Linked DNA regions of Homo sapiens. The protein of the gene in region 2 interacts with the protein of the main gene of each other region in a pairwise test. Each region holds a gene or a part of one and is shown on either strand. Other genes may lie near its edges.

What was found. The genes of interacting proteins can lie anywhere in the genome.
Region 1: the proteins of OSR2 (region 2) and LIMS1 interact in a two-hybrid assay, tested with the Homo sapiens proteins (one large-scale study listed by BioGRID and IntAct).

What each region holds. Positions count from the first base shown.
Region 1 is NC_000002.12:108,677,470-108,680,969, forward strand, and holds part of LIMS1 (LIM and senescent cell antigen-like-containing domain protein 1), read left to right. Parts: exon of another isoform or gene 1-22; intron 23-509; coding exon 510-558; intron 559-969; exon of another isoform or gene 970-1,132; intron 1,133-3,225; coding exon 3,226-3,301; intron 3,302-3,499; coding exon of another isoform or gene 3,500-3,500. UniProt on the Homo sapiens protein: Within the IPP (ILK-PINCH-PARVIN) complex, binds to F-actin, promoting F-actin bundling, a process required to generate force for actin cytoskeleton reorganization and subsequent dynamic cell adhesion events such as cell spreading and migration.
Region 2 is NC_000008.11:98,942,967-98,947,241, reverse strand, and holds the start of OSR2 (protein odd-skipped-related 2), read right to left. Parts: upstream 2,801-4,275; 5' UTR 2,419-2,800; intron 1-2,418. UniProt on the Homo sapiens protein: May be involved in the development of the mandibular molar tooth germ at the bud stage.

The sequences.
Region 1 (3,500 bases), on a different chromosome or scaffold from region 2:
AATTACAATTTCCTTCCCTCCTCTGTAAGAAAGAAGCAATCTGTGGGCAATCATTTTATGACCATGGAAATGTCCTGTTCCTCATCAACCTGCCCTAGATTCAGCACCCCTTGATGATTCTTGTCTCTGCGCCAGCTGCAAACGACACTTCTCCAGCCCCATGCCCTCCACCCATAGTCTGGTCCTCAGCGCTCTGCCTGAGCAAGAACCCACCTCCTCTCCCGTCTATAGGTTTATTCATTTATCTATTTCTTATCCATATGGACTCACAGATTTCTATATTTTGCATCACTTATTTGGGTGTTCAAACTGTCATCTGGAAAGTTTTTCTTTTAATTGATGAGAGTGAATTACTTTCATTGTAAGAAGTAAAAACTTGTCAAAGAACTTTTACTAAATTTCTCTAGTAGTGATAAATCCTCAATTTAGATAGCCAGCTATTTTTAAATGTTCAGTGTTCTAAAAATTCTAACACATCTTGAACTTTGACCACCTTTTTTTATTTTCAGCTATTTGGTGATGTTTGCTTCCACTGCAATCGTGTTATAGAAGGTGATGGTAAGTATCTGTGTGAGTTTTAGATTGGTGCCACTTTGACACAAAAACACTTGGGTAATGTGGAAATTCAGGTTGGTGATTGTATGGTTTGAAATGTGATCGTTATCAGTTACTTTTTCTCTATCTTTGGCGTATTTTCCAAGTAATCTGTAGCAGTAAGATGATAATATCAAAGAGTTGGATTTGTTACTGATTTATGACACTACTTTCGGCCACTGCTGCAGTGTTGTATGCCAGCAATCATGGGAACTGTCCCTGGTGGACCCTAAGACCTGTTTGTGTCCAGTTTCAGGAAGCTCTAGAACAACGTTTATTAGGAACAGTTTAATCTGCTATCGTAGTTAGGAAGAGGCACTTTAACCTGCACATGCTAAAAGCTGGCAGTTATCAGCAAGCATATCTAGGACTTACCACCCTTGTACTGTGGTAATTAGGCTGGGCTGATTGATTGGAACAGAAAGGAAGCAGCTGTGTTTGCTAAGACTCGCTAACACACTTCTGCCAGAGACTTCCTGGCAAAGTTTTGAACAATCCTGTTTTCAGCATGATTCATGGCTCCCTGCAGACATCACCTAATTCAGGAAATACTTTTGAAACACTGTTCATGTGCAGTTTGTGAAAACAATCCAGGAAAACAATCTTTAGTGCCATTGAAAATAAAACTTACCTCCCTCCTCTGTGAAATAGATGCCAGGTGAAAGAAGCTGCAAAGGAAACTGTCTTCTTATCATCAGCTCTGGAAAAAAGACTCCTACAGGGGCAAATAAGTTAATGTCTGGATTTTTGAAAATTATTTACCTAGTTCATATTTCCATGTTGGGCCAACAGCAGTAGGGACAGAAACAGCAAGCTCACCTAAACAACATGGTGCATGGACAGTTGCCACATGTGCCCAGGCCAAGGGGGCACAGTTGCTGGTGTAAGACATGGCACACATCATTTATAACTTCACAGGATACTTAAGGATGGGGGAAGATTAAAGTCAGCCCTCCGTATCCAGGGGCTGGATCCAAACATCCGTGGATTCAACCAACTATGGATCAAAAATATTTAGAGAAAAATAACAATATAACAGTACAAATAGTACAGTATAATGACTATTTACATATCATTTACATTGTACTAGGCATTATAATTAACCTAGAGATGATCTAAAGTATACGAGATAGGACCAGGCTCAGTGGCTCACGCCTGTGATCCCAACACTTTGGGAGGCCAAGGCGGGCAGATCAACTGAGGTCAAGAGTTCAAGAGCAGTCTGGCCAACATGGTGAAACCCCATCTCTACTAAAAATACAAAAACTTAGCTGGGTGTGGTGGTGCATGCCTATGATCCCAGCTACTCGGGAGGCTGAGACAGGAGAATCACCTGAACCCGGGAGGCAGAGGTTGCTGTGAGCCAAGATCACACCATTGCACTCCAGCCTGGGCAACAAGAGCAAAAACTTCGTCTCAAAAAAAATAAATAAATGTATACAAGACAATGTACATAGGTTATATGCATTTTATATCAGGGACTTGAGCGTCTGAGATTTTGGTATCCTCACAGCATCCTAGAAACAGTATCCTGCACATACTGAGCAACAACTGTATACATAAAGGTTGAGGGCCGGGTGTGGTGGCTTATACCTGTAATCCCAGCACTTAAGGAGGCCGAGACAGGAGAATTTCTTGAGGCCAGGAGTTCGATACCAGCCTGGGCAACAGAGCAAGACCTCCATCTCTACAAAATAAAAAATTAGCCAGGTGTGGTAGCACACACCTATGGTCCCAGCTACACAGGAGAACGAGAGGAGAAGATTGCTTGAGCCCAGGAGTTCGAGCTGTGATCGCACCACTGCAATACAGCCTGGACAACAGAGCGAGACCCTGTCTGAAAAACAAAAGAAAAGAAGCTCTCAGGAAAGAGGTTCTTGGCTGGGCATGGTGGCTCATGCCTATAATCTCAGCATTTTGGGAGACCGAGGCAGGTAGATTGCTTGAGCCCAGGAGTTCAAGACCGTCCTGGGAAACATGGCAAGACCGTGTCTCTATAAAAAATACAAAAATTAGACAGGTATAGGCCGGGCGCAGTGGCTCACGCTTGTAATCCCAGCACTCTGGGAGGCCAAGACGGGCGGATCACAAGGTCAAGAGATTGAGACCATCTTGGCCAACATGGTGAAATCCCGTCTCTATTAAATACAAAAATTAGCTGGGCATGGTGGCACGCACCTGTAGTCCCAGCTACTTGGGAAAATGAGGCAGGAGAATCGCTTGAACCCAGGAGGCGGAGGTTGCAGTGAGCCGTGATTGCGCCACTGCACTCCAGCCTGGCAACAGAGCGAGATTCCGTCTCAAAAAAAAAAAAAAAAAAAAAATTAGCCAGGTGTAGTGGCATGCACCTGTAGTCCCAGCTACTCAGGAGGCTGAGGTGGGAGGATCACTTGAGCCTGGGAGGTTGGGGTTACAGTGAGCCAAGATTGTGCCACTGTACTCCAGCCTGGGCTATAGAGCAAGACCCTGTCTCATTTAAAAAAAAAAAAAAAAAAAAAAAAGGTTCTTGAGAACCTCCACCAAGTGCCACAGACACAGTCGTAGTTCTGTTTTGGAGTTGAAATTCTAAGCTGCCCTGCTCCCCATACTGATGTATTTCCATGTGACCAGATCTCTTTCCTCTTTCTCCAGTGGTCTCTGCTCTTAATAAGGCCTGGTGCGTGAACTGCTTTGCCTGTTCTACCTGCAACACTAAATTAACACTCAAGTAAGTGTACGGTTTTGTCCAGTGTGAATCCTAAGACTGAAAACTTTGGGGAGACACTTAAAAAAAATCCTAGAATTTAGAAAAAGAGAATTATTTGATTTCTTATTTCCTCTTTCTGTTCAGGCCTTCTGAAAGTAAAGGTTCTTCCTTTAACTGTTCCCTGTTCTTTCTTCTATTCCTTCTTTGTCCTACTCAAAGG
Region 2 (4,275 bases):
AGAGATTTATTAACGAATCGCTTCTGCTTGGTGGTATGCGGTCTGGGAGTTCAGGCTAAGAGTTAATGAGAGGTGGGTAACAGTCAGAGGGTCTCAGTCAGACCATTCAACCGCAACTGCAAACCCCCATTAGTAATCAACTTTCCCACCACAAATCACGATTCATTTTTGCTCGGTGGCAAGTCTCTTAGGGAGGCAGGGGAAAAGGATTCTACTAACATTCCTGGTAATCTACCTGATTATTTCCCTTTCAATTAAAAATAATAATTTATACCTTTATTTCCTTCTCTTTGCGTAATGAGGATTTTCCAGAGATTCAAAATATTATTTTTCCCTTCGTGTTGAAAAGCAACCTCTTTCCCATAGAGAGGAAACCGAAATTATTATTTGGGTGTATTCCCAGACTAGATTTCTTAGAAATAAATACAGGAGGCAAAGCACAACTCCCACCACAGGGTGTATGCGTTGGGGAGGGGGGAGCGGGCATGTGGGGGAGTGGTGTTGGCTAAAGTACTGTTGTGACCTGTGATTTCTATACCAAAGGCACAGCGAACTCTGCCATAAAGGTTACACTGCCACAAAGTTGAGTGCCATCTTCTTTCCCTTTTCTCTGAATGGTTTATAATACAGAAATTAACGACTAATATAATTCAGGTTCATGTTAGTAAAAAAAAAAAGTGCTATTTCATAGTACCTGTTTGTTTTAATTTGTAGGGCAGATAGTTTCTTCATAGAGGAAGAGCAAACCATTGGTCCTTTTGAAACCCTTTTACAAACAGAACAACCTTAAATATCCACCAATGGCTCTTGCCACAAATAATTAGGAAGGTTAAATTTCCACACTCCCATTGAGTTGCTGGAAATGTATGTCAAAAGAAGTATTTTAAGTGAATGCAGAGATCCTAAAGTACTTTCGTTTTGTCTAGAGCTGAGCCTTGTAGTTCCCACACTCCCTTTCAGGAAATAACAGCGATCATCATCTGCTGTCATTTCTCCACCGTCCCGTTTCAGACCACTGGTTACTTTTAATCTTGCAAGGAAAGAAACTTAAACCAATGAAAAGTCATAAATATGTTGGTGGAGCTGAGGCTACTTTTCTTTCATCAGTCTTCTTCACAGGAATTTCCAGGCATGTGGAGAAATTTTGTAAAATTTACTTGACTGGCTGTCACCAAGGAAGATGTGTACACACTTATTTCAGTTCAGTGAAGCTTTCAAAACATTGGAGAAAAAAATTAAGAAGTAACTTGATAAGGAGTTTCGCTCTTTGGTAATGGTAATATTACACTGAATTATCTAAAAATAATATACAGTCAGGGTTCATCTGCTAAAACCTGTGCACTGGTATATGAGATAAATGACTGATGGTCGGATAGGTAGGCTCACTGAATTTCAGCCCAAACCACAGCAGAATTTTATATAAATTAGAGAGCTATAGACTAAGTAGATCAAAGAAGATCATTAAAAAGAAAAAAAATTGTTAAAGGACAGATTGTTAGGGCCAGACTGTATCAGGTGAATAGAGAAACGGCTGCGAAGTTCCTGCCCCTTCAGAGCGCCTCTGCCTTCCCAAGGAGTTAATTAAATTAAGATGCCTTCCGCATAATCTAGGTTCTGTTTCTCTGTGCTCCCCTTGCTCCCCCTGCGTGAGTAATTTTCTTGTTCTGCCCAGGACTGCAGTTTGTTTAGCAGAGAAAGTGGCTGTCTGCGCCCTTTCGCTTCGGGAAACGCCAGCCCCCTTTTGTTCTCGGCTAACAGGTAGGAAGACAGATCCGGGGCTCCCTCCACAAACACCTTTTCCTCGCTCCTTCTTCGTACAACTGCAACTCCTTTCTCACTTGCCGTTTCTCAGGAATCCGAGCGTTTAAGCCCCCGGGGAGTTTGCTTTTGGGCCCCCTCAGTCAGGACTAGAAGGTGGGAGGAGAATTTTAAAGCCAGCACGAGGTTGACAAATTACCGAGGACTGAACTATTTCCCTCTTGAAATGTGCCTTCAGCGTCGCTGGCTGGGCAGGCACCGGGTGTCCGGGCCCGTCCACGCTGCGCTGCCGCGGCTGCCCCGGGACAAGTCGACCCAGGCTTGCTAGGGCAGGAGCAGAAACACCATGGGATTGTGGGGTTTGATCTCAGTGTACGTAGACCAGCTTTTATAAGAAGTCTTGCTGACCGCTTAGATTAAATATCCCAAAACAAAATTAAGAAACAGTATGTAGAAATGTGTGTGGTTGGGTGTTAGCTGGGAGTCGCGTGCCAGGGACCCAAGGAAGTGAGAAATACAGTGCCCTGGGATTGCATCCCCATGATCTATTTTCACATCTGAATTTGGGGCACACCAGACCGAGAATCTGAACGCCTCTTACACCCCCAAACCCTTCCTTCCAAAGGGCAGCTACAGCCCCTTCCCAGAGCGAACACTCACCTCCCGCAGAAAGGTCAACCTGGGCAGCCGCGCTCAGACCCGGTCCAGGCAGCGAGGCGCACAGCTTGGAAAGGTCATTGAGTCCACGCCTGGCAAACTTTTTTTTCCGCGCGGAGTCGCAGGAGTCGCGGACATGATCTGGAGGACCGCGAGCAGCTAAAGCGAGAGCAGATCCACGTCTTCGTCAGAGTCTGTGGACGCGGACTGTGTAAAGACCCGGGGTGCTTGGGGCCGGCGTTCAGCGCTCGCCCAGAACCTCGCTCTTCGGCGAACCTCTCGCTGTCGACTCCCGGTGAGGTCGGAGCCCACAGCCTTGCAGGGCCATCACCCTCCAGCAGCAAGCACGCCGAGCTCCGTCCCCGCCCGCGTCCCTCCCCAGGCTGCCCCAGGCCGGGAGTCTTGGGCTTTAGTAGCGGCCCCGCCTCCCCTTCGGGCGGGCGTCCCGCCGCCGCGCGGGGCCCTCAGCGCCCTGGCTCCGCCTCCGCGCCCGGCGTCTGCTAATGGTCCACTCTGTTTACTTCTGTTTGGATAGCAACTGAGTCTTAAAGGCACAGGTTTGCTCGAGGTTTCCCTGTTATAGAGACGCAGCCGTAGGTGACTCAGTTCAAAACTCACACACAAACACAATACCCACCCCCTTTCTTCTCGTTGCCACTTTTCCTTATACCATTAGAAACTCAACAACTGCTTCTCTGCCTCTCAAAGACTCCACAGAGAATCCCAAAGGGCATTTAGTATTTTTATTTGGTTCGCTCGCCGGCTTAATTTGCACATCTTAACACATTCAATACAACTACCTTCACCGTAAAGTAAAATAATTCAGGTCTAGACTGCATTCTCCAGCATAAATCACTCTTTCCCCAATTTTAAACAGTTTTGTACATACTTTTGGTCAATTATGACTACATGTGTAGTCTGCTTTCGCCTGCTGTTTTCTAAACGAAGTTTGTTTACAGAGGTGGCAATTGACTAATTTAGTAATTATTGCAAAGACGCGTGGAATGCCCCAGGAGAAATTTCTTCCAATATTTAAGCTTTAATCGGCAAATGTTCATTTCATACGCAGTAAACCAACTTGGTTAAAACAGTGGGCATCTGCAACCCATTGGCAAAGAATAAAGAATCCATCTGGAATTGGTGAAGAACAATCATTTTTAAAATTTAGGAAAATGCGATTCTAGTTTTTCAAAACATTTACATCTTCATTCCCAGCAAAAATTGAGTTCAATGTTCAGTCTCCAGGAAAGTTAATAGAATTCAAAGTGCAGTGATACATTTTTCAGGTCCTTCTAAAGGTTTGGTCTTGTGTGAGTGTAACTGCAAAAAGCACTTCAACCTCTCTGGAATAGGGGTGACCGAGTGACAGGAAGGGAATGATACACACCCATTTTAAGCAGCTTCTTTTCAGATGTGATTTGCGTGATCAACACTAAGCAAAAACGCCCTTCGTCCCAGACGAGTTGCCAGAGGGGATCTGTGTTACTCCACGGCAAGCCCGCACTTTGAGGACGTAGATCTTCAACCAAGAGGCTGTACAATTCAAAAGTGTTCCGTCGAAAGATGGTTTTGAATGAGACGCCCCAAAGGACAATTCAAAAAATCTCAATCGTGCGGGGAAGTAGATAAATACAAGCAGAGGCTAAAAACTGTCAAAAGGTTAAGCAGTAATTGGGGAGTCAAGCAGAAGCTCCCAGATATTATTTTATTAAGATAAAATTCTTTCTATTTTATTTATGCCGAGGTGGAGAGAATTTTTCGTTCCTTTGGTAAAACATAACAGGGGTCGCAGATTTTTTTTCTGTCTTTCCAATTTTAAGTTCGCAAAGATTAAAAAGTGAGCTTGAAACGGAGATTCGA